Homo sapiens: one gene and its partners. The protein of the gene in region 1 interacts with the protein of each later gene in a pairwise test. Each region holds a gene or a part of one and is shown in the gene's direction. Other genes may lie near its edges.

Region 1 (4,038 bases):
CCCGCGCAGAGGGCTCCCGGGCCGCCTCTGCTGCAGCCCTCCAAAGCTTAGACCCACAAGCAGAACTTCACTCTCCCACCATTCAGACCTGCTCCCTCCCTCCACCGGAGATCCCCACCTTAGGCCCTGGCCCACTAGCGTCTGCCAGGCCTCCAGGCGCCTCGGACCTTCAACCCCTTTGACCCTCATCCTACCTGATCCTCGGACTAAGGCAACCCCAGCCCAAAGACCTGTGCCCCCAGGGGACTCCCCCATGCCCTATGGGGCCCAGGACCCACTCAGATGTTAGCAGGATACCCTGGGCCAGAGACTGGGCAGTGGATTCCCTGCCGCTGGGGACCTCGGGAGCTGTTGGCCTTATCCCGAAAACGAAAGGGAAAGGCAGGTCCTGTCTGGCTGCCTCGGAGAAGCCTGAAAGGTGCCTGGGTTTGGGGCTCTCAAAACTTCCTGGAGCAGTGGTCCCATCTCATAAGCAGATTCTCTAAAAGCTCAAGATATTCTCCACCCTCCCCAGCCATCAGTAGGACCCTTTGCCTTCTGCCCTTTCCGGAAGGTCTCCCGTCAGGTGAGGTGGGGGGTGGCTCCGGGAGCCAAATGTCCTTCCCAGTCCCTTTTAGGATATGCCATCTCAGACCCAAGACCAGCCTGCATTCTCCCTCTTCTCACCCGTTTGGTTTCCAGTAAAAGCAAGGCTTTCCTGCCAGGGTAGCAAGAGAATCATTTCTTCCCTGGGGGCGTAAATATTTAATCAGATATTGGGAGCACCTCCCAAGTCGACCAAAATCCCAGCTGGCCCACAGACTCCTTACCATAACCCCAGCCCTCACCCCTCCCTAGGCAGGCTGGCCAGCCCAGTGGGACTTGGAATGAAGACACAGCACTCAGTAATCCTGAACTCACTAATCCTGCCCAGGTTTATGGTGGTAGGGGTGGGTGGGGGTGGAATCAGGTAGTGTCAGTGCTGGGGACTAGGGAAAGCTGAGAAGCAGGGATCTGGCAAACTAGCTCAGGAAACTCCACTCAGAACTGGAGGAAAATCCGAGTGGGCAGAGGGCATGCGGTAGGCAGATAGGTAAGGATGGGGGAGGACTAGGAGGTTCTTACCAAATTTGGGGGGAGAAAAGGAAGGGCAGGAAGATTAGAAGAATCTAGTAAGAATAGAAAAAATTTAAATATTTGTGGAGAAACATATTTGGCATATATTTAGGCGGCAGGAAAGAAATTAAATAGGAAGCAAAAAGATCAGGTATTTGAGAAAAAGAATCAACTGTTTAAGGGGAACAGTGCAGGTCAGATATTTGGAAAGGATTCAAAAGCCTAATATTTGAGGACGATTCAAAAGGATCAAAAATGGGGGATAAACAAGAAAACAGACTGAGGGAGAAGAAAGAGGTTCAGACAGTGGGGTGGACTGAACGAAAATAAACATTTGGAGCCAAAAAGAAAACATCAAATATTGCCGATAAAGATGATAACAAACTATTTGAGCGATGAAATAGATCGAAGAATTGGGGGAGTCGGAAAGTCCTATGTCTCAGGGAGGAAAAATACCTTTTGTATTTGAGGGAGAATAAAAAGACTGAAATATTTAGTAGATAGAGCGAACCTGTTTGGGGGAGAAGGCAGAGGTGAACTGGTTGAGAGAGGAAGAAAGAAAACGAATATCTGTTAAACGAGAATCCGTATTCGGAGAAGAAAACGGATATAATTTCGGGAGAGGATAAAGATCGGAAAAAGAAATTAGTATTTTCTGGGGACAGGAAAGGAACCATTGTGGAGGGAATGCAGGAGCGGAAATATCGGTCGAAGGAGAGAAACGACGTTCGGAGGGCAGCGGGCCGACGGAAGGCTCCAGGCGGTGGGGAAGGGGGTGGGGTCCCTCCCGGCCCGCAGCGGCCCTGACCCTTCTCCCGTCCCCTCCCCCAGGTCTGGTTCAAGAACCGGCGAGCCAAGTGGCGTAAGCGCGAGCGTAACCAGCAGCTGGACCTGTGCAAGGGTGGCTACGTGCCGCAGTTCAGCGGCCTAGTGCAGCCCTACGAGGACGTGTACGCCGCCGGCTACTCCTACAACAACTGGGCCGCCAAGAGCCTGGCGCCAGCGCCGCTCTCCACCAAGAGCTTCACCTTCTTCAACTCCATGAGCCCGCTGTCGTCGCAGTCCATGTTCTCAGCACCCAGCTCCATCTCCTCCATGACCATGCCGTCCAGCATGGGCCCAGGCGCCGTGCCTGGCATGCCCAACTCGGGCCTCAACAACATCAACAACCTCACCGGCTCCTCGCTCAACTCGGCCATGTCGCCGGGCGCTTGCCCGTACGGCACTCCCGCCTCGCCCTACAGCGTCTACCGGGACACGTGCAACTCGAGCCTAGCCAGCCTGCGGCTCAAGTCCAAACAGCACTCGTCGTTTGGCTACGGCGGCCTGCAGGGCCCGGCCTCGGGCCTCAACGCGTGCCAGTACAACAGCTGACCGCCCCGCCGCACCACGCGGGCCGGCGGCCGGAGCGGGGAAGGGCGCGGGCGCGGGCGCGGAGGACGCACGCGGGGCCCCGGCTCGCAAGCCCCAGCTCACCGCGCCGCGGACCTCACACCTGCGCAGCCCCCTCCTCCCACTTCCCACTCCGGGTTGGTTTTGTGTTTGCTTTTCCGGACCCCACTCTGCCCTCCAAAAAGACAAAAAAAAAAAAAAAAAAAAAAAAGCAAAAAGACGTCGGAGAAAAGTGCCGCGAAAAAATGGATGAGTTGCAATTTCTCTCGGGATGGCGCGGGTGGTGTGTGTGTTCCCACGGGCCCCGGAGGCCCACTCCGCGGAGGGCACGCGGCGCGGTAGGCGAGCGCCGAGGCCCAGCGGCCGGGGGAGGACGACCTCGTATCCCGCGTCCCCGCCGCGCTGGATCCGGACTGAGTGGCCGGGCCTGCGGACTGGATGTGCGGGGCCTGGACTTGCCTAGGATTTCCCGACCCCGTACAAACCAAGTTGCCCTCTCCGAGCTAGGCCCGGCCGAGAGCGCCTTAGCTCGAGTCGGATCCGTGTTGGGGCGGGCGTTGGGTTTGGGGGGACGGTGCCCCCAGCCCAGGATCGGGCACTCAGTGGAGCCGCACACGGCCCCGGCGCGCCTGGTAGAGCCTCGCTGGCCCCGCGCCCCGGAGCCCTATATTAAGGCCACGGAGCGACAGCGGGCAGTGCGGGCCTGGCGGGAGGTGGGGGAGGTCCATCTCAGAACACCCCAGCCTTGAGCTTAGCTGCAGGCCCAGGCCCTCTGCTCTGCTCCCGGGCTAGGAGGTGGCCCTCTGTCTGGGCGAACAGCCCCCTCCTCACCGCCCGCCGTGCAAGAGTCGAGCCGGCAGAGCAAGGGGCGCGGCCCCAGGGCCCTGCGCCCACTTTGCACACCCGCTCTCCGGCCCGCGCCCCTGTTTACAGCGTCCCTGTGTATGTTGGACTGACTGTAATAAATCTGTCTATATCGACTTGTCCATGTACGTCTATTAAAACCATAGTCCGAGCGTGCTAAGCACTGCTGAGCCCCGACTGCTTCATTGGGCTGAGGAGGGAGGCGGATAGAAAGGGAACTGTGGGTAGAAAGGGAACCGGGCCCCTTGGGTAGGAGCAGAGCGCCGAGGCAGCCCCCGCCGAGGTCTGCCTACCCCGCTTCCCCACCACCATTCTTGACCTGCTCAGCCTGGCTCCCATGAGGGCACCGTCCTGCGTTGCGAGCCTGTCCGGTGCGCACCCGCTAAGCTGTGCCTCTCGGCGTTGTCCGCGGGACGCCTTAGCGAGAACCCCCTCCCTCCGCGGCTGCGGGACTCTACGGGTTTCTTCCCAGGCCGGGTCTGCGGTGACCCTCGAGGCCCCAGGGTGCTATGGGGCCCTTGCCTGCCAGGAGCGTTCGGGCAGGGGCTGCTGAGAGCCTCTTTATGCCTGGGGTTGCCTTTTCTTCTGTGGGCCCAGCAACAGCCCCTCTTCTCTCCTCGGAGCCAGGGCCAGGCTATTCCAGGAGGACTGAGGGGGCTGGATCTATCAGAGTATAGCGAGGGCCTC
Region 2 (7,043 bases), on another chromosome or scaffold:
TCTCAAAAAAAAAAAAAAAAAAAAAAAAAAAAGAAAGCCAGAACACTTGAAAATAAGTGAATGAATCTTTCAACTCAGGGAGATAGTAAAATGAGAATAAAACATAAAAGGAATTGATGAAGATAAGAGGGATAGGGTCAGTAAGAAAAGTAAGGGGTAAAGGAGTGAGGGAGTGCACAAGAGAACACTATTTTGTTTTTTGAGATGGAGTTTCGCTCTTGTTGCCCAGGCTAGAGTGCAATGGTATAATCTCCGCTCATTGCAACCTCTGCCTCCCGGGTTCAAGCACTTCTCCTGCCTCAGCCTCTGGAGTAGCTGAAATTACAGGCATGTGCCACCACGCCCAGCTAATTTTGTGTTTTTAGTAGAAGCTTGGTTTTACCATGTTGGCCAGGCTGGTCTCGAACTCCTGACCTCAGGTGATCACCTACCTTGACCTCCCGAAGTGCTGGGATTACAGGCGTGAGAGACTGCTTTTTGCCTATGAATTAAGAAAGCTCTTGTGATACTTAAGGTTCAGATATCTAGTTTTTTTTGACAATATAGTGTAAAGTTGGTAGGTATAGAGATTGTTAGAATCGTTTTGCAGGGCATTTTGGCAATACCTGCTGAAATAAATTATGTTTTTATCCTTTGATGTGGTATTTTCAGTCTTTGGAATTTGCCCTGTGGAGATGTTTACATAAGAGTGTAAGGGTAATAGGGATGTTAATAGCATTCTTTTCTTCTTTTTTTTTTCTTGAGATAGAGCCCCTCTCTCTCATCCAGGCTAGAGTGCAGTGGTGTGATCTTGGCTCACTACAGCCTCGACCTCCCAGGCGCAAGCTATTCTCCCACCTCAGCCTCCCAAGTAGCTTGGACTGCAGGCATGCGCCACCATGCCCGGCTAATGTTTATATTTTTTGTAGAGCTAGGATTTCACTATGTTGCCCAGGCTGGTCTTGAACTCCTGGGCTCAAGTGATCCCCCTGCCTTGGCCTCCCATAGTGCTGGGATTACAGGTATGAGGCACTACATCCGGTCCCCAGCATTCTTTTTAATGTTGAAAAATTGCTAATCTAAATTTTTTACTCATATCGTGGAATATTATATAGCTGGTAAAAAGGAAGTAGATCTGTGTGTATGCCATGAACTGACAAAGCAAGTGGCAGTACATTTCACATTTATTAAAAAGTAAAGTAAAAAGTATAGTATAGATTATGTTTTAAATATTACATATCTATTATGTATGTAATTTTTAAAAATATATATTCCTAGTGCATGTCTCAAGTGGTTTGGGGCAAAGCCTGAAGACTTGTTTTTTAAACAGATCTTTTCAGGAATTCTGATGCCAGCCCAGGTTTCAGAATCATTGCAATGTTGGATTGCCTTAAATAAAGTACCCTTTTTCTTTTCTCCAGGGCCTGGAAATTTACACTCCAAGATTCTAGGACAAACACAGTAAGTTGCTAATGGCAATCACCAATAATTTTTTTTTTTTTTGACAAGGTGTCACTCTCACTCAGGCTTGAGTGCAGTGGTGCTGTCTCACCTCACTGCAGCCTCTACCTCTCGGGCTCAAGTAGTCCTCCCACCTCAGCCTCCCCTTCCCAGTAGCTGGGACTATAGGCCCATGCTACCACGCCCAGCTTATTTGAAAAAATTTTTTTGTAGAGACGAAGTCTCACTATATTACCCATGCTGGTATCCAACTTCTGGGCTCAAGTGATCCTCCCACTTTCGCCTCCCAAAGTGCTGGGATTACAGGCATGAGCCACCACACCCGGCCACCAGTAATGTTTTCACATGGTCTTGTGTAACAATTGGAGAATGGGGAAAACGGGTTTCTTGACCATCTGGCCACGAATGGGCAGGTAGTGCTGGGCAGGGCGCCTTTTGCCAACAGTGAGCAAGCTGGGTTTGTCAAATGTTTGGCAGGAGGCACCCTGCTCTTACAGGCATGCTTGTTCCAGTGTTGCTTTCTAGAAATGCTTGTATTTCTCAAAGTTCTGCAACACTTTGAATTGTGCTGTGGTTTGCAGTAAAGGCTTAGAAAGAACTGCAGGATCCTTTTCACGCATGGGAGCTCAGCCTGTGAAACAAACATTTTTGTGACTTGTACTTGTCTCTCGTCCTGTTTCTGGCCTTAGGAGGTCACTGAGACAGTGAACCTCATTTGTAGAGCCTCGTAATGCTGTCTTTATCTGTCAGTGATCAAGGGAGTGTGTTACTCTGGTCAGAGTTTTCATTCTTTAGATGGGATTTTTCTCTCCTTTATTAATCTGTAAGAAAAGAAGAAGGTGGATCAAGCTTACAGAAGAATGTGTGCATGTGGGAGAAGAAAGTAAAAGGCTTAATATCCTAATAGCGTCAGTGTTCTCTTCCTTTGTTAGCACACAACAACTTCATTCTAAGCTTACTCTACAGCCGCAGTTACCTTTTCTTCATGAAAATCCCCCTTTTTTTTTTTTTTTTTGGGTAAAATTAGCATTAACAATCCATACAGTTAAGGGCAAGCTCCCCAAATGATTCTTTGTGTGGATTTTTTTTTTTTGAGACAGTCTCACTCTGTCGCCCAGGCCAGAGTGCAGTGGAGCGATCTCGGCTCACTGCAACCTCTGCCTCCTGGGTTCAAGCAGTTCTCCTGCCTCAGAATCCTGAATAGCTGGGATTACAGGCACGTGCCACCACGCCCAGCTAATTTTTGTATTTTTAGTAGAGATGGGGTTTCATCATGTTGGTCAGGCTGGTCTCAACTCCTGACCTAGTGATCTGCCTGCCTTGGCCTCCCAAAATGCTGTGATTAAAGGCATGAGCCATTGCGCCTGGCCACTTTTTCTTTTTTTTTAAAGAGCTAACATGTTTTTCTTTAAATTATACTGGGGAGTAATTTAATGAAGAATTTTGTTTTTTAAGGTAAAAAACAGACTTATGTATAGGACATATCTCTTGATACATTTTAGATTGTAGAGTTTTTATTTGTGAATAAAGGACTGTTGAGAGTGCTGTAACATCTTTATTTTTTTGGAGACAGTCTCGCCTTGTTGCCTGGGCTGGAGTGCAGTGACTTGATCTTGGCTCACTGCAGTCTCGAGCTCCTGGGCTCGAGTGATCCTTGAGACTTAGCCTTCTGAGTAGCTGGGGCCATAAGCACCATGCCCAGTTAATTTCTTGTTTTTTGTAGAGATGAGCTCTCCCTCTGTTGCCTAGGCTGGCCTTGGAACTCCTGGGCTCTAGTGATCCTCTCACCCAGCCTCCCCAAAGTGTTGGGATTATAGGTGTGAGCCATTGCACCTGGCCTGATGTAACATCTTTTAAAAGGCATTGGGTAACAGTGGGGCCTCTGAGTGCCTTCCTGGCTGTGAGAGCTGTAGTCCTGTTAGGGGCCGAGTGAGGACCACTTTGCTCTTGCATTTAGAGGATACCAGAATAGGGGTGGGGGCCCCCACTGGACTGGGGGAGTTTTTCCTGTTTTGCAGAGAGCTATGTATCTTTTTGTTTTTTTAAATTTTTAATTTGCTAAATAAAAGGGACAATGCACAGCATCGAGCACACAGCTGCTGGGAAGCTGTCCTGTCCTCACCCTCTCCTGTCTCCCGCAGGCGTATGTGGGCTCTGCAGTCATGACCGATGAGACATCCGTGGTTTCCTCACCTCCACCATACACGGCCTATGCTGCACCGGCCCCTGAGGTAGGGAGAACCCTGAGCCTCCAGGTGAGGGAAGTTTGGGGTCTCTGCTGCTGTCCTGCTTTGTTTTGTTTTTTTAAATGAAATTAGAAATGTACTCTAAACCTTTTCTTCTTAAAACAGATGATTTCTTATCAACGTTTGTTTTCATGAAATGAAGCAACTATTTTATATAGTTCAGCACATTATAATGTGCTGTATTAATGTGTAACACGTTTTTAAGATAGATCTAAAAATGCATCATGTTAATGATAGTTGCCTTGGGTAATGAGATTTTGATGATCTGTAGTTTATATGGAATGAATTATTTGAATTCTCCTTATAGTCAGAAAAAAATGCTATATTTTAGGGAAAATAACCTTAAAAAATCATGTCAAATACATTGGGATGTCCTCTTGTTGGGGTGCTGACTGAGCTAGTGGAACGTATGTAAGTCTGTTGTGTGGAACACGCAGCTTTTAAAAAAATTGAATTTTGAAATAATTATAGATTCACAAGAAGTTGCAAAGATAGCTTTGAGAGTCTCATGTGCTTTTTATGTGTTTTCCCCATTTGTTAATATTCGATCAAATTAAACCCAGGAATTTGGAATTGGTGTGGTATTTAAGAGTAATCCTGTGTCATTTTCTCATACGTGTAGATTGTGTAGCTACCACCTCAATCAAGATAAAGAATTCTTCACAAAATCTTCCTGCTGTGACACCCTTTAATAGTCATGCCATCCCTCTGCTTCCCTAAACCCTGTCAATCACTGAACTGTTCTCCAGCTCTATAGTTTTATCATTTCAACAATGTCATATAAATGAAATCATATAGCACGTGGTCTTGGGAGTTTAACGTTTTTCACTCAGTATTTGCCCTTGAGATCTGTCCAAGTTGCTCTTTGTCAATAATCCTTTTTATTGCTGAGTGGTTTTTTTTTTTTTTTTGGGATGGAGTCTTGCTCTATCGCCCAGGCTGGAGTGCAGTGGCTCGATCTCGGCTCACTAAAAGCTCCGCCTCCTGGGTTCTCGGCATTCTCCTGCCTCAGCCTCCCGAGTAGCTGGGACTACAGGCGCCCGCCACCACGCCCGGCTAATTTTTTGTATTTTTAGTAGAGACGGGGTTTCACTGTGTTAGCCAGGATGGTCTCAATCTCCTGACCTCATGATCCGCCCACCTCGGCCTCCCAAAGTGCTGGGATTACAGGTGTCAGCCACTGCACCCGGCCCTTTTGAGATGGAGTTTCGCTTTTGTTGCCTATACTGGAGTGCAGTGGCACGATCTCGGCTCACCACAACCTCCACCTCCCGGGTTCAAGCGGTTCTCCTGCCTCAGCTTCCCAAAGAGCTAGGATTACAGGCATGAGCTGATTTATTGGCTTTTCCTTTTCTCGGTTGTGCTTTTGCTGTCAGGTTAAAACTTAACATGACAAACCTAGCCCAAGTTTCCTAAGATTTTCTCCTACATTATTTTCTGAAAGTTTTATAGTGAGGTTTTATAATTATTCTGTATTAATTTTGAATTAATTTTTTATAAGATAGATGTCTTTTTCAGGGCTCTGTTGAGTGTATCTCTTTCTGAGGTCTGTGGTCTGCTCCATTGTTCTGTATTGTTACCTTCCTTTGATCCCACACAGTCTTAATTATTGCAGCTATTATAAAAAGTCTTGGAACTGGGTGGACTGATCAACACCCTCTTTGTTCCTTTTTGGAAATGTTTTAGCTATTCTGGTTCCATTAGCTTTCCATATACATTAGAATAAATTTGTTTATATCTACAATGAAATCTTGCAAGGCTTTTGCAGGAATTGCCTTAAACCTGTGTCATATTTATTTGGAGAGTAATGACATCTTTATTGAATGTTGAATCTTCCAGTTATAAACATGGACTGCATGTGTATTTAGATCCTCTTTGATTTTTTTCATCAGCATTTTGAGGTTTTCAGTATAAAAATCCCATACATGTTTTGTTAGATTTATAAGTGTTTCAGTTTTTTTAGTGATTGCATATGGTATTACATTTTTAGTTTTAGTTTCCTTTGTTTACTGCCAGTATAGAGAAATAGAATTGATTTTTGTAGGTTGATCTTGCAGCTTGTAAACTTTCTCTTTTTTTTTTGAGACAGAGTGTCTCTCTTATTGCCCAGGCTGGAGTGCAGTGGCGCGATCTTGGCTGACTGCACCCTCCGCCTCCTGGGTTCAAGCGATTCTCCTGCCTCAGCCTCCTGAGTAGCCGGGATTACAGGCACGTGCCACCACACTAATTTTTTGTATTTTTAGTAGAGATGGGGTTTCACCATGATGGCCAGGCTAGTTTCAAACTCCTGACCACAGGTGATCCACCTGCCTTGGCCTTCAAAGTGCTGGGATTACAGGCATGAGCCATGGTGCCTGGTCGGCGCCTGTAAACTTTCTAAGCTCACTTACTCTATTTCCTTTTTCTGTAGATTCTTTGGGATATACTACATAGGCAATCATGTCATCTACAAATAGGAATCTGTTTTCTTTGTAACCTTTATGCCTTCTGTTTCCTTACCTTGCCTTGTTGCCTTGGTTAGACCTTCAAATATTATGTAGAATAGCAGTAGTGAGAGAAGACATCCTTGCCTTGTTCCTGATTTTAGGGGGGATGTATTCAGTGTTTTTTTTTGAGATGGAGTCTCGCTCTGTCACCCAGGCTCTGGAGTGCAGTGGCGAGATCTCGGCTCACTGCAAGCTCCGCCTCCCGGGTTCACACCATTCTGCCTCAGCCTCTCTAGTAGTTGTGACTACAGGCACCTGCCACCATGCCCGGCTAATTTTTTTATTTTTTTTATTTTTAGTAGAGACGGGGTTTCACCATGTTAGCCAGGATGGTCTCGATCTCCTGACCTTGTGATCCACCCACCTTGGCCTACCAGAGTGCTAGGAATACAGGCGTGAGCCACCGCGCCCGGCCAGTGTATTCAGTTTTAAGTATGCATTCATTTATTATGAATGTACTGTTTAATTCAGTATTTAATTAGTACTGAATTCAGTATTTAGTTTTACATATGCATATATTTAGTATTTAATGCATTCATTAAGTATGCTGTTAGCTGGAGGTTTTTTATATTTATTCTTTATCAGGTTTAGAAATTCCCTTTTTCTAGTTTCCAGGAGTGTTTATCATGACTGGTTGTCAGTTGCTTGCCTGCCTGTCTTCCTGCCTCCTCCCTCCCTCCCTCCCTCCCTCTCTCCTTTCCCCCGCCCGTCCCCTCTCCTCCTCTCCTCTCCTCTCTCCCCTGACCCCCTGAGAGATGAGGTCTCACTCTCTTGCCCAGGATGGAGTGCAGTGGTACTATCATTAGCTCACTTCAGCCTGGAATTCCTGGGCTGAGGCAATCCTCTTGCCTCAGCCTCCTGAGCCACCATG
Region 3 (7,889 bases), on another chromosome or scaffold:
TCCCAGCTACTTGGGAGGCTGAAGCAGGAGAATCGCTTGAACCCGGGAGGCGGAGGTTGCAGTGAACCGAGATCGCGCCACCATACTCCAGCCTGGGCAACAGAGACCGTGTCTCAAAAAAAAAAAAAAAAAAAGCCTCCTTTTCTTGTTTGCAATTAGGTAACGTTTTACGCAACGTGGCACTTCTGTCATAGAAAGTAGGATGGGTGTAGAATACCGAGAAGTAGAAGAGTTGTCAAATTTGATTACTTGATCATTTATTAAGAATTATCAGATTTGATAACTGGAAAAGGGAGGGACCTTTCGAAAGAGACCCAGAGTCGGCATCAGCACAGGCCAGAAGGAAAGGAAGCAATCACTGGGAGGGGAAACCTCGCGCGTCTGCACATGAATGCCCGTTACCATGCCTTTTCTCTCCGAATATTCCGATCCATACAACTGGATCAAGTTTTCGATTGCTGTCTCTGCCCAGAATTGCCCTGGTGTTTGGAGCACTTTTCTGTCTTCATCTCGACTAGTGAAGAATAAATGAATAAACTAGGGGTTGGTTTACGGCATGGTGAACCCAGCATACTCTTCTTTTCCACCACCTGAAGTATTGCCCCCACCCACTCACCAGAGCTCTTGGGCATTCCCCAAGAGCAGTGACTGAGTGACTAGGAGAGGTTAGGAGCTTGGAAGAATCACACCACAGGAGGTCCTTGGACTAGAAGACGTTTCTGAACCATTAGAATCCGAAGTGACTGTGAAACTTAGACCCTGCTGTAAAAGGGCCCTGAAGGTTCCCTCTGTGGTTGTCTCTAGAAGACCCCAGGCTGAGTGCCTCTCGGAAGCCTACCAAGTGGAGGCACTGAGACGGTTGGGGATTCTCAAAATGGTGGAAGGGGGCCCGAGGGCAGATGGAATAAAACACCACTAGATAAGTCGCAGGAGTCCTTTGGTTACTATGGATTCTCTGAAGGCACCTCTGCTCTTCATGTTCATCCAAAAAAGGAGTGAAAGGGCAGAAGCTGGAAGCAGTAAGGAGAGGTGCTGATTTTCATACCTACATATCTTGTTTTGCTTTGTGGAATGAACATCATTCACCTATATGGGATCCTTAGTGCCCCACTGTTCTTTCAAAGACAGGGTCTTTGTGACCATGGAAATTGTTTCCTATTGTGTAAATTCATGTCTGGTTATACAGCTGCACCTCCCACTGGAGCAGAACATGCTAAATTTCATTCTTAGACAATGTACACACATGTTTGCCTAAAAGGCATAAGTATAAGAGATTCAATCCCATCTCTATCTATCTTTTGTTAAAAAGGAAGGAAAGGAGGGAAGCAAGGAGGGAGGGAATAAAAGAAAAAAAACAGGGAAAGAAAAAGAGAAGAAATGAAGGAAGAAGAAAGAGAGAAAGAAAAAAAAGGGGAGGGAGGGCAAAAGGGAGAGAGCAAAGAAGATATTCTGGTTGATTCATGTGTCTAAATACATCCAAGAAAATATTTTTGTTTCAAAATGCCCAAAATAATTCCAATAATTATTCCACTTTGCTCAGTATTATATAGGCAATTTTGTGGGAGAAGTGTATTCAAGCAATAAAAAAACAAAATCAATTTGCAATAGCAAAGGAAACCCTAAGTACCAAAAGAAAGAGAAAAAAAGAAAGAAACCTGAAGAAATACATGTTTATTAAAGCTAGGGATAGGCATGAGTTCGTTTGTAATTGTTCACCAACCTCAAACACACAGTGGAGTGGCAAACTCTTTCAGTGAAGATGTTTGAGATTGGGTGAAAACTGTAAAGATGTTTGAGATTGGATGTTGAGATTGGAGTGATTTGTATAACGCTGGCCTAGAAGCCCAGGAAGGAATTTGCAACTACCCCAAAACTCTTCCAGCTCTGGATTCTAACCAAGACAATAATGATATATATATATATAAAGATTTCTTTGCAGATTCCTAAAGTGACTGCCATAAGACATTCCTTCCTGGCATGTGGAGCATGGAACCAGAAGGAAGAACAGGAGAACTAAGTGCTGAGGAACAACCTTTTCAGCTTTTGGGGTGCAAGGCCAGCAGCGTGTCCACCATGCTCTTGCCGGCTATTTTGAGTGACTGACGCCGGCCTGGCCTCTGACTGAGGCTGGAATGCACACCACGGGTTCCCTGTTGGAGGGGGCCCCAGGCAATAGTCACCAGAGTGCTGTGGCCAGTTAATTCAATTATGCCACCCGCTGGAAAATGAGTGACCAATCACTCTCTGGAAAAGAAGTAAAACAGAGAAAGAGGAATCAACTTTGCTAAAAAGCCCAGTCTTTGGGTCAAGTCAGACGACACTTATTAATTGCTCAAGACTATTAATTGGATGGGGGGGTGTCTGACAGAAATGAACGCTACACACACACACATCACATCACACACACACACACACACACAGGCACCAAACACACCACACACCTGCCTCAATGAGTTTCTTTAGAAAAGGGGCGCGCTGAGCAACCCCAGAGCAGATGGAAGGGAGCGCTGACCAATATGTGCATATGGCATGGATGATTTCCTCAACTTTGTTTCTTTCAGGGGAAAACAGCTTTTTTATTTTTTTAAGTTGGAATGAAGTGGGAGGGAGCAGTTGGCCAAATGAAGTTTCCCTGCAGTTCAGATGCTGGTGTGGGAAGCCAAGACATAGGGTTAAGAGGGATGCTTTCTAAGGTAGTCAAGGGCCCTGGCAAGGGAAATCTCAAAACTAAAAGAGAGCCATTTTATCCTTCCTGCTTCATTTTCCTTAAGTACAAATGAAAGGGTCTTTTCTCACTCTTCAGGATCTTTAGTTTCCCCTCATGTCCACAAGAGTTCAACAAGCATGTAAGTTAAACCCTGGACACTCTTTGTTTGGATACCTAAAAGTCACTCAGGAAAGTGAACCATGAAAGTGGGGTTAGGGGGTGGAATGCGATGATTGCCAGTTAGTTGGTGATGTCCTGATGTTCACAGGGTCCAGGCTACTGGAGGTCATTCCATGGGGTGTACTCAGTTCAAGGCCAGAGCTCATTACCGAGAGTATCATAAAGCTATATCTTCTGAGTGCGGTGGCAGGGGTGAGGGGGGCTATGTGTGGCTCTTATTCCAGACAGGGACAAACATGTGGAACAAACACTCTGGGCCAGCAGGCAGAGCAGGCGGCCACATCTTCCTGAGCTTCCTCATTGTTGTTCCCCGGGGAGAGGGTTTTGTGTCTGCTGCCTGGACCTAAACTGGGAAGAGAAGGTACCGTCACCTTCAATGAAGGTGTATCTGACAGTAGGGGTGTTGGAAAGGAGATTGCAACATGTCTGAGAAGGGCTATCCTCTTCCATTTGACCGGGACTAACTGGGAAGCCAATATCATCCACCAGGAAAAGCGCACCTGGGCATTCCCCAAGATAACCTGCAAGTCCTACATATTCTTCCAGGGAATGGTCTGCACTTTCCCAGGGGCAGGGGTGCCTGAGTTAAGGTCGTGGGGGCAGTCTCCATCTCCCAGAGATGATTAGTTATTTTCTCCGTGGGTAAGCTATGGAGGCCCCACTCAGACCTGGTAAACAAAGACTCCACTGCAAACATTTTTGGGATTCAACCCCTAGAGCCAACAGCACTCATTTTACCCCTTTTACTTAAAGATTAAGTTGGATATTCTTCCTTTTTGTCATCATTGGTCTCTCAGTCTCCTTACTTCATTAGGCCAAAATATGGAATTTCAAGGAGGGGTGGGAGGGGGGCAGCACTGGCACACCTTGAAATAGGGAACAAGTGTTGGCTGCTGACCCCATGTGGGGCTGAAGAATCGTGTATCTCCATTTCAGACAATGCATTTCAATTCTTGTCGTGTGCCTTTGTCCATTTGTATAAAGCAAAGAGCTCTGAGTGACAGCCCCAGTTAGCCTGCATGAGCAGATCCTAATAAACCCTCCCAAACCCCAACCTAAAAAAAAAAAAAGCCACATGCCTGTTTGCCTGAGGCTTATTATTAAGACACCTTCTCAGCTTAAACACTTAAAAGCAAACCAAATGAAATGGCAATTAAGACTGAATTACCCCTTCTATCTATGAGATGAGTCTGTGGGGCCAGCCAGTTCTTTCTTATAATGTAGACACTGAGGAGCAAAGCCTCAGTATTTCAGGTTTATAGCTACCACCACCCCCTCCAGGCACTAAACAACTTGGTGGAGGAAGCTGAATTTTGAAGGAAGGAAAGCTCAAAAACTGTTTGAAAGTCAAGAAATCCACTGAAGAGATGGAAATATGTGTGCACTGCTTCCTTCCTGCCCTCTATTTATAAAATATAACTTCCAAGCATTTAAGGGTTATTTTGGGGGTAATAGTGTTCAAAAACCTAATGCTACTGCTGAACGGTCTACACCCCACCACCACCAGCAGTGTTTCCAAAAGGGAAGAAGAAAAACACAAAAGAGGGGGGATATGGTTTGGTTTGGGGAGTGAAAGACAACAGTTTACCTAAATGTAGAATCTTGTCTTACATCTTTATTCCCTTGCATTTTTCCTAAATGCATTGCCAGTTACACCATTTCCTGATGATGGAAACTTGGGACTGTCCATCACCATTATTTATTTTTAAAGCTGCTGAAAAGTGTAAGCCACCGCTTGATTTTGCCTTTCAAAAAAGGGGAAAGAACCCAAATTCAATGTAAATATGGAAAGACCAGCATTGTTTCCACTTGGGCGAAGGCAGACACCCCAATCTGGGCAAAATTGATTCGGGTGGTTGTTGGAAAAAGCAGCTTTCAGCATCCAGGGAGTGGAACCAATAGGAATGAACACTTCCCCATATAAAAGGAAGCTTTAATTAATATATATTTCTATCTCTAATATACATATATTGGAGCTAGAGCTCTAGCTTCACAATAAAATGTGTGCAAATACTCTCCACAGAGATAAGTCCCCACCTCAGTCGGTATAGAAAAGCATGATAAAGGTTGGAAAAAATGGATAAAAATGTTGAAAGAACCTCCAGTTCCTTATTAGGCGAAGATACAATATTTATTCCTTGTCTCCTGGGATAAATCTCTTCTGCCTATTGTCCTCCCAGTTCTCAGTGCTGATGCTTAATTTTCAAAACTTCTATATTACCAAGGGACCTACGACATCAGCCAAAGAAATACTCAGCAAGTACAAAATCTGTTCCAGGGAGCTGCTTTTGTGCAGAGGGAAAATTTTGTTCCTACAGGTTTTTAAGTGGGTACGAGGCAAGGAGCTATCTGATCCGGGCAAAACCATTACAATTTAGATATCTACCTATAGAACATTTTTTTTTTCCTTTAAAAATTGGAAAATACAAGAAGTTTGGATTTTTTTTTCCCGATTCTTTTTTTGGAGGGGGAAATTGCATCGTAAGCTTTCGGAGAAACCCAACATGTCAACTACCTTTCCGGGACTAGTCCACGATGCCGAGGTATTATTACTTTTTTTTTTTTTTTTTTTTGAGCGCGCGTGTGTGTGGCGGCGGCGGCGGTGGCGGCGGTGGCGGCGGCGGTGGCAGCCTCCCCTGTCTCTAATCTATATTGGACCGTTACGTTTAATTATAATCTGTCTTTCGGGGGAAGTTAAGGAAGGAAAGGGGAGAAAGTTCGTTATGACATCTGTCGCCAGGGAGGGCAACTCTCTGCCACGTTAAGAAACATTTGCCATAATGAGCGGGAAAACATAATCTTAATAATAAAAGGGGGGAGTGAAGAGAAAGAGATAGAGACGGAAAGAAAGATTCTCAGAAAAGCAAAGAAAAGGGACTGGTGGGGAAGCAGTAGATGCACAAGGGGGATGGGGAAAACGCACCCCTTTTGGAATGGGCTTATTCAAGGAAAGGGAAGCAGAAAAGAGGGAGTCGGATTCCCTCCCTCGAATGACTAAGGAAGGGAGCAAGTTGAACGATTTGCACAGACTGGATTTTTTAAAATATATGGACAATGATTTTGAGCAGCCCGGGCCGAACATCTCGGCATAGACAGGCGCAGAATTTCGATGCTGGGGTCTAGTTAGAGTGGCAAGGCGCCCCGGGCCAGCGCTCTTTTCGGGTGGACTCGTTCCTCTGCTACCCGCGGCCCCGGAGTCAGTTGCAAACCTGGATCCCAACGCCAAGCTCCCTGCACAAGTTGGGCAGGGGCTGTGTGTGTGTCTGTGTGTGTGTGTCTGTGCGTGTGTGTGCGTGTGTGGTGTCACCCGCACCTATATAGGGTGGGGGATTTTTTTTCCGCTCTCTCGACTGTGAGGACGAGGCCGCCCACCCCCAGTTCGCCTGTTTGCAAAGGCTCTCTGGTGAAGACGCTGAGACCCGGCTTCGGCTCGGCCCGAGTCCTACGCGCTCGCTTTCCTTGGAGTGCCAGAGAAAGCTCCTGGCTCCGGGAGAGCGGCGCCTTGGTTGCAAAATGACAAACCTCAAGTTTTTCTGCTCTCCCTTTTCCCCCTCTTCCTTCCAGATACGTCACGACGGATCAAACAGCTACCGTTTGATGCAGCTTGGCTGTCTGGAGTCAGTAGCCAATTCCACTGTCGCCTATTCCTCCTCCTCTCCTTTAACTTACTCCACCACCGGCACCGAGTTTGCGTCCCCCTACTTCTCCACTAACCACCAGTACACCCCGCTCCACCACCAGTCCTTCCATTACGAGTTTCAGCACAGCCACCCGGCCGTCACCCCCGACGCCTACTCTCTGAACTCTCTCCACCACTCGCAACAGTACTACCAGCAGATCCACCACGGGGAGCCCACCGACTTTATTAACCTGCACAATGCGCGGGCGCTCAAGTCGTCCTGCCTGGACGAGCAGAGGCGGGAGCTGGGCTGCCTCGATGCCTACCGCCGCCATGACCTGTCCCTCATGAGCCATGGCTCTCAGTATGGAATGCACCCAGATCAAAGACTCCTGCCAGGGCCCAGCCTGGGGCTGGCCGCCGCGGGAGCAGACGACTTGCAGGTAAATAAGCATGCAGCGAATTTGTCTGCTCCCTCCCCTCTTCGCCCTCCCCCTGCCGCCCCATTAATGCTCCGACTGTAAAGCGTCTCTCTTTCTCTCTCTCTTCTCCTCTCTCTCTCTCTCTCTCTCTCTCTCTCACACACACACACACACACACACACACACACCACTTATGGAAAGTTATCAAAACAATTAGAGGAGGAGTGTGCCCGTTCTCTTCCTCTCATTGGATCCAAGCATTTCACCTGGAAGTGCGGGAGTCCGGGCGGCTGCGGCCCTCCATCTTTGGTTTGTCCTCACAGAAGTCTTTTGTGAATCAACATTTGTGACCCTGAGGGGATGAGGTGGAGGAGATCGAGGAGTCTGGGGTTGGGCCAACCGGACTCAGAGTAAGATCCAATAAATTGATGACCAATCGTACCCTCAATCTCCGCACTTTACAGGGTCTTCCGAGGCGTCCCAGGTGTTTGTCTCAGACTGAGCTTGTGGAGATCTTACTACAAACAGGCTTGTTCTAAGGAAATTGTTGGGACCCTAAGCTTGAACAAAAGTTTCACCAAATACACTAGATATCTGTGGAAAGTAAAGAATCGCAAATGAAAGTCTCAAAGTTCTACCCCAAGGAAATAATCCGCACAGTGCACTTTGCCAGGGTGTAGGGTTGAGTTTAATTCTCTCCGCCTGACGTGCACTCAAAACCGCAGCCCAGTTAGGTAATTTACAAGTTTATTTTTGCTCTTCCAGCCATTACATTTTACGTAAAATGCACCTCCTTAAAAAGATAAAAATGAGGCAGTAACGGTAATGAAAGAGGGAAAAAATAAAGAAGGAAGGAAGGAAGGAGAAAAGGAAGGAAGGAAGGGAGAAAAAGAAGAAGGAAGGAAAGAAGGCAGGTATTCAGACACTGTGGAGGCCATCACTCAATCAGATGATCTCTCTT
Region 4 (7,000 bases), about 16 Mb from region 1:
GTCCAGTTTCTTCCCCTACCCTGATTTTGTAGCTGAAATATGCACATTCTATGGGTACTGACGCTCTAACTAGAAGGGTCAGGCAATGCATTCTCTTTTCTCTTGGGGAGTTCATTACAGACCCCCAAATATGGAGACACATCATTGATACAAGACTTGAAATATATAACTTGTTGATTATTGCTAAGGTACTGACTAAAGACAATTTTGAAACAAAAGTAGGAAGAAAAAATAAATCTCATAATCTCACTACCTAAAGACGGCCACTGTAAAGTAAAAGTTATAAAAATGTTTACCATCATTGCATGCTTACTATGTGGCAGATACTTTGCTAAGAGAAAAGTATCCTTTATGCTTTGTGTCATTTCATCCCCACCACAACTCCCTAAGTTAGATATTCTCCTCATTTTGGAAATGAGAATATTGAGGCTCAGAGGAGCAGGTGATCACATCTGGTAGGTGGTAGAGCTGCAATTTGACTCCAGGTCTCTTTGTCTTCAGAGCTGTTTCTTTATTACATGGTTACAATGATAATACATCACTTTTTAAAAAAAAAATTCACTTGCCATTGACTTGGCATACATTAAAAAAATTTGTTTAATTCAGACAAAACAGACATGAACGGCTTTGAAAGTTCATCATAATGGAACCATCTGGAGATAACCACTGTTAACATATTTATGTAAATTCTTGTTCTGTTCATATATGAATGTCTTTATATAAACATACATACACATGGGCTAAATACTATATGCTATGTTCTTTGGCTTTTTTTTTTTTTCATTTAGCAGCATTCCATCCTAGTATGATTTATCTCACGCCTTCCTTCCCCGTGCTTACCAGCTTTCTGCTGTTTGGACACGTCATGTGTGTTTAACCATCCCCTGATGAGGGTTGTCTGGGGTGAGATCCTTCGGGGCAGAACAGAGGAGCCTTGTGCAAGTGACTTATTGAGAACGTGCTCTCGGAAGGGAAGGAGGAATGCAGCCTAGGGTGGGGTACTGCTGAGCGAGGATGTGGGCTCAGCGGCTGTCCAGTTCAGTGTGACCCCGCGGGGAGCTCTCGAGCATGAATTGCTCCACAGAATTCATCCCACCTGAGGCAAGGGCGCTGTGGAGCATCCATTCCACTGGCAGTTCTCTGTAGAAGGTGGTGGTGTGAACTCTTAGCCACTAATAAGGGGCATCTGGCAGCATCCACCACGAGACTGAGTCCCAGTTTTCACAATTTTAAACCCCACTGCAATAAACATTCTTATACATGTATCTTTGGACATATTTATTCAACTTTTTCCCCGAGAATAAATTCCTAGAAATAGAAATACTCAGTCAAATAGATTTTATCTTTTTTTATTTTTTAATAGAGACAGGGTCTTGCTATATTGCCCAGGCTGGTCTTGAACTCCTGGGCCCAAGCAATCCACCCACTTTGCCCTCTGCAAGTGCTGGGATTATAGTTGTGAGCCACTGTGCCTGCCATTTTTTTTTTTTAAATATTGAGCTCAGCTGGGGGAGGTGGCTCACGCCTGTAATCCCAGCACTTTGGGAGACTGAGGCAAGCGGATGACCTGAGGTTGGGAGCTCGAGACCAGCCTGACCAACATGGAGAAACCCCATCTCTACTATAAATACAAAATTAGCCAGGCGTGATGGTGCATGCCTGCAATTCCAGCTACTCGGGAGGCTGAGGCAGGAGAATCGCTTGAACCCGGGAGGCAGAGGTTGCAGTGAGCCGAGATCATGCCATTGCACTCCAGCCTGGGCAACAAGAGTGAAACTCGTCTAAAAAAAAAAAAAAAAAAAGAACAATATTGAGCTCAGCTCATCTGTATAGTATTTCAGAATATGATACTGAGGGTGCTTTATTATGTATTTAGGTATAACTATTCTTTTATATTTTTAAGTAGGCAGTACACTTTCTTGTTAAAAACAGTTACAACAAAACAGTGTAAACAATTTCCAACCCTCCTCCTTTATATGTCCCATGGTCACTGCTGTGGTGACATGTCTCCTTGGCATGTCTCCTTGCAGATTTTTCAATGCATGCAAAAACACATACTTATTTTTTAATATAGAAATGGGGGCCGGGCGCGGTGGCTCACACCTGTAATCCCAACACTTTGGGAGGCTGAGGCGGGCAGATCACTTGTGGTCAGGAGTTTGGGACCAGCCTGGCCAACATGGTGAAACCCCATCTCTGCTAAAAATACAAAAATTAGCCGTGCGTGGTGGCTCATGCCCATAGTCCCAGTTACTTGCGAGACTGAGGCAGGAGAATCACTAGAACCCAGGAGGCAGAGGTTGCAGTGAGCCGAGATTGCACCACTGCACTCTAGCCTGGGCAACAGAGCAAGACTCTGTCTCAAAAAAAAAAAAAAAAAATATATATATATATATATACACACACATATATATAAAATATAGTTATATAATATATAATATAAATGGGATCTTAGAATACCTATTCTTCTGAATCTTACTTTCCCCTCCAATTAATTTATACTGGATTTCTTTTTTTCTTTTTTTTTTGAGACAGCATCTCACTCTTTTGCCCAGACTGGAGCACAGTGACATGATCTCAGCTCATTGCAAACTTCACCTCCACCTTCAAGTGATTCTTGTGCCTCAGCCTCCCAAGTAGCTGAATTACAGGCACACGCCACCATGCCTGGCTAATTTTTGTATTCTTAGTAGAGAAGGGGTTTTGCCATGTTGGCCAGGTTGGTCTTGAACTCCTGACCTCAAGTGATCCACCCTCCTCTGCCTCCCAAAGTGCTGGGATTATGGGTGTGAGCCACTGCGCCCGGCCTATAAGTGGATTTCTTTCTGTTCTTAGCACATAAAAAGTGTCCTTTATGTGTCCGTTGAAAGAATAAAAAAAAATCAGTGTCCTTTTTAGACAGCTATTTAGGATTCCATTGACTGGCATGAATCACAGCACCCAAGTGACCCCCAGTACTGCCTGGTAGCCATGTCCATCTCCCTAGTTCATTCACTATCTCATGCTACTCTCTTAATGACTTTGGCAACCCCTCTTCTCAAACCTCCAATACCTCCTTGCACAACCTCATTCTCAGCTAAAGACCTTGCTTCTTATTCCACTGAGAAAAATAGAGTAACCAGAAGAGAACATCTGCAAGCATCCTCCGCCACATCTGTCTACTTGCTTGCATCTGCACCCGTGTTTGTGGTTTTCCTTTCTGATATGGTGGATGGACTCTCCTCATACCTGCCTGGTGCCAATTCCTCTGGCTGGGCTCTGGAAACCCAGCTCTCCTGTCACTCCTGCTCAAGGACATTCCTTCAGCAATTCTCCCCTCTCTCTATTGCATTGTCAAATGTTCCCGTCAGTTAACGCACATGCTGTTATTTCTCCATTTTTACAAACAAACAAACAAACCCCTCTTGATCCCATAGCTGTCTGTAGCCAGGATCCTTTAAAGCCCAACTCTTCCAAGCAGTTGTCTATATTGTTCTTACCAATCCTCTCTTTCTCTCTTTTTGACATTTTATTAGTCAATTTCCAAAGACACATACAAGTAGGGAGTACATGGTCCCTCCTTCATTCCTAAATTTCAAAGCTAATACCAAAAAGCATGTCATTTCACCCCGCAAATTCTTCAGAATGCATCAAAATAATAAAAGGGCATTTCCTTACATGCCACAAAGATATTAGCATACTGAACAAAATTTGCAGTAATGATTTGATACCATTTAATAAGCGGTCTGTATTCAACCTTCTTCAGTTTTCTAGTTTGTTTTCATCAGCATCCAAACAAGGGCCACAGTTTTTATTTGGTTGCTATGGCTCCTAAATCTCCTTTAATCTAAAGCAACCCCTCTGCCCCTTTTTTCCATGTCACTCACTTGTTTGAAAAACCAGGCCAGTTGTCCTGTAGAATGTCCTGCGTCCTGGATTTGGCTTATCGCTTCCTCATGGTGTGGTTAAACTTGTTCTTCTGTCCATTTTCTCTTGAACCCTCTCCAGTTAGGCTTTCACACCCAAACACTCCATAGAAACTGCTTTAGTGAAAATTACCAATGACCTTGTATTGCTAAATATAATAGTGGATTTTCAGCCCTCATCTTCCTTGACACATCAGCAGCACTTGGCTCTGTTAGTCTCTCTATCATACCTGAAATGCTTTCATCATTTATTTCCAGGATGCCATCCTCTTTAGTTTCTTCCTATGTTGTGGGCTGCTCCTGCCCAGGCTCCTGGCTTGGTTCCTCCTCACCGCCTCACTGTAAATGTTGGAGGCCCCAGGCTCCGTCTCTGATCCTCTTTACCTATTCTCATTTCTTTATGATCTCATCCAGCCTCCCAGCTTAAAATACCATTTATGGAGCTGGAATATGAACGTATGTGTATCTGATTTTAGAGATGGACTAGGCAGGCCGTGCTGCCCACACAGGGCTCTCACCTGCCAAGGTCCTCACCATTCTGTCCCCTCTGTCCTGCAAAAGGCTTCCTTTGTTGGCCAAACGTGAAAGTTTGAATTTGGCTGGTAGGAAACGCACAAAGGATAGGGATGGGTCTCAAACTACTAAGAACAGCCATCACCCTGAAAATCCTCTAAATAGCTGTAAAGACTAGTTCCAACTATGAGAAAAGAAATAAATGTAACGTTCTTCATTGAAAAACAACAACAAATACCAGTAAATACCAGTAAAAGCTCATGATGCCCAACATTTCACCTCCAGGTCAGTTTTCTCCAGATTCACACATCTATCTCCCTCCTCAGCACCACTACTTAGATGCCTACAAGTCTCCTCAAACTTAGTGTGCCCAGTTTTGGAGACAATTAGCAGAGTTTGGATATGGACTAGATATTAGGTAAAACAAAAATTTGTTCACTTGGAAATGTGGAGATCTTTAACTTGTAAAGATCTTGATAAAACAAGTTACAGGCCGGGAGCGGTGGCTCACGCCTGTAATCCCAGCACTCTGGGAGCCCGAGGGGGGGTGGGGGGCGGATCACAAGGTCAGGAGTTTGAGACCAGCCTGGCCAACATGTTGAAACCCCATCTCTACTAAAAATACAAAAATTAGCTGGGCGTGGTGGTGCGCACCTGTAATCCAGCTACTCACGAGCCTAAGGCAGGAGAATTGCTTGAACCCGGGAGGCGGAGGTTGCAGCGAGCCGAGATTGTGCCATTGCACTCCAGCCTGGGTGACATCTCAAAAAAAAAAAAATTACAAAACATGTATGCTATAATTTTATTTTGGTTAAAACCTCATAGGAATATAGTCATTGAAAAAGATATGAAAGGACATACACTAAGGTGTTAATAGTGGCAGTCTCTGGGTGATAGATAATGGTATTTTTCTCTTTTTTGTCTGATATCTGTATTGTCCAACTTTCCTCAGGGCCCATATATGCTTTTTTTTTTTTTTTTTTTTTTTTTTTTTTTTGATGGAAAATCACTCTGTCACCCAGGCTGGAGTGCAGCAATGCAATCTCGGCTTACTGCAACCTCCACCTCCTGGGTTCAAGTGATTCTCCTGCCTCAGCCTCCAGAGTGGCTGGGATTACAGGCATGCGCCACCTACGCCCAGCTAATTTTTCTACTTTTAGTAGAGATGGGTTTTTGCCATGTTGGTCAGGCTGGTCTCGAACCCTTGACCTCAGGTGATGCGCCTGCTTTGGCTTCCCAAAGTGCTGGGATTACAGGCGTGAGCCACCGCGCCTGGCCCATATATGCTTTTTTATAATAATAAAAGGCTATTTTAAAGTTAAAAGAACACAGGTCTAAAACTGAACTCCTGATCTTTCCCAGAACCTTCTCCTCCCTTTGCCTTCCCCATCTCCGTGAATGGCTGCTCTATCCTTCCAGTGGCTAAGGCCAGAAACCTTGCAGTCATCCTCTCTCACTCATTGCCCATACCCATGGCTTACCTTTAAAAAATATCGAGAATCTGACCATTTCTCACTACCTCCACCATTATGGGCAAAGACCTGCATGGGGAATTCATGCAATAAACACAAATGGCCAAAGAACTTCGGAAACAGTGCTAAACTTCACTGAGCAACAAACACATGCAAATTAAACTCTGAGGTGTCATTTTTGCCCATCAGGTGGGCAAAGATTTCAAACAATCATGACACCCGGTGTCGGCAAGCTTGGTGAGAAACAGGCATTCTTACACACAGCATGCCATGCTTCGAGAGGTGGGGCCTGGAGTGTATGGGGGATGGGGTGGTGAGAGCCCGCTCTGGCCTTTCCTGGCAGTCCCTACGCTGGACCTGGGCAAGAAGCTGAGCGTGCCCCAGGACCTGATGATGGAGGAGCTGTCACTACGCAACAACAGAGGGTCCCTCCTCTTCCAGAAGAGGCAGCGCCGTGTGCAGAAGTTCACTTTCGAGTTAGCAGCCAGCCAGCGGGCGGTGAGTAAGCCACCATTGTGCTCATGGGGAAAATGAGGACCACAGAGAGCCACTGGTTAGCCTAAAGTCAAACGGTAAGCCAGGCTGAGGACTGTGATGTTCCCATCAGATTAGGCTCCTGCCTTTCAGTGTGATCCTTGAAAAGTGTTATCTTTTTAGGCATCTCTCCCTGGATACAGAACAAAGTAAACAAAGTGGATTAGGGGGTTGAGGATAAGCCGTGGAGTGAAGGGACTCTGGCTCCTACCAAAAAAAAAAAAAAAAAAAAAAAGCTAAGACAGGCATGCACTCTAGGCTAAATTTGCAGCAGGCTGGATCTAGTTTAGACTTGGGCCTGATCTAAGATGGAAAATGTAGAATGCCCTTTTTTCTTCTTCCCACCGGAGAAAGGAAAGGCCATGGAATAATCTGCTGGTGGAGAAGAAAGGCAAGAAGGGTTTTTCCCTTGGCTTCAGAAAGGCAGCAGGCAGTTCCAGATACTTCTAAGGAAGCCAGGGCTATTCCATCCACCCTCCACTTAATTTCTGGGCTAGACAGGAGGCAACTGAGAGGGAGTGATGTGGCAGAAAAATAAAGATGGCAAAACACCCGCCTTTGCTATGTGCCTAAGAC

Evidence for each region.
Region 2: the proteins of PITX1 (region 1) and PLEKHB2 interact in binary tests that used the Homo sapiens proteins (3 or more experiments, as listed by UniProt).
Region 3: the proteins of PITX1 (region 1) and TFAP2D interact in binary tests that used the Homo sapiens proteins (3 or more experiments, as listed by UniProt).
Region 4: the proteins of PITX1 (region 1) and MYOZ3 interact in binary tests that used the Homo sapiens proteins (3 or more experiments, as listed by UniProt).

The regions. Positions count from the first base shown.
Region 1 is NC_000005.10:135,027,210-135,031,247, reverse strand, and holds the end of PITX1 (pituitary homeobox 1), read left to right. Parts: intron 1-1,926; coding exon 1,927-2,469; 3' UTR 2,470-3,514; downstream 3,515-4,038. UniProt on the Homo sapiens protein: Sequence-specific transcription factor that binds gene promoters and activates their transcription. May play a role in the development of anterior structures, and in particular, the brain and facies and in specifying the identity or structure of hindlimb.
Region 2 is NC_000002.12:131,129,321-131,136,363, forward strand, and holds part of PLEKHB2 (pleckstrin homology domain-containing family B member 2), read left to right. Parts: intron 1-1,400; coding exon 1,401-1,440; intron 1,441-3,581; coding exon 3,582-3,671; coding exon of another isoform or gene 3,672-3,695; intron 3,696-7,043. UniProt on the Homo sapiens protein: Involved in retrograde transport of recycling endosomes.
Region 3 is NC_000006.12:50,708,665-50,716,553, forward strand, and holds the start of TFAP2D (transcription factor AP-2-delta), read left to right. Parts: upstream 1-4,861; 5' UTR 4,862-5,391; coding exon 5,392-5,430; intron 5,431-6,451; coding exon 6,452-6,949; intron 6,950-7,889.
Region 4 is NC_000005.10:150,664,251-150,671,250, forward strand, and holds part of MYOZ3 (myozenin-3), read left to right. Parts: intron 1-1,263; exon of another isoform or gene 1,264-1,781; intron 1,782-3,866; exon of another isoform or gene 3,867-4,022; intron 4,023-4,135; exon of another isoform or gene 4,136-4,348; intron 4,349-5,072; exon of another isoform or gene 5,073-5,180; intron 5,181-5,899; exon of another isoform or gene 5,900-5,959; intron 5,960-6,233; coding exon 6,234-6,388; exon of another isoform or gene 6,389-6,557; intron 6,558-7,000. UniProt on the Homo sapiens protein: Myozenins may serve as intracellular binding proteins involved in linking Z line proteins such as alpha-actinin, gamma-filamin, TCAP/telethonin, LDB3/ZASP and localizing calcineurin signaling to the sarcomere.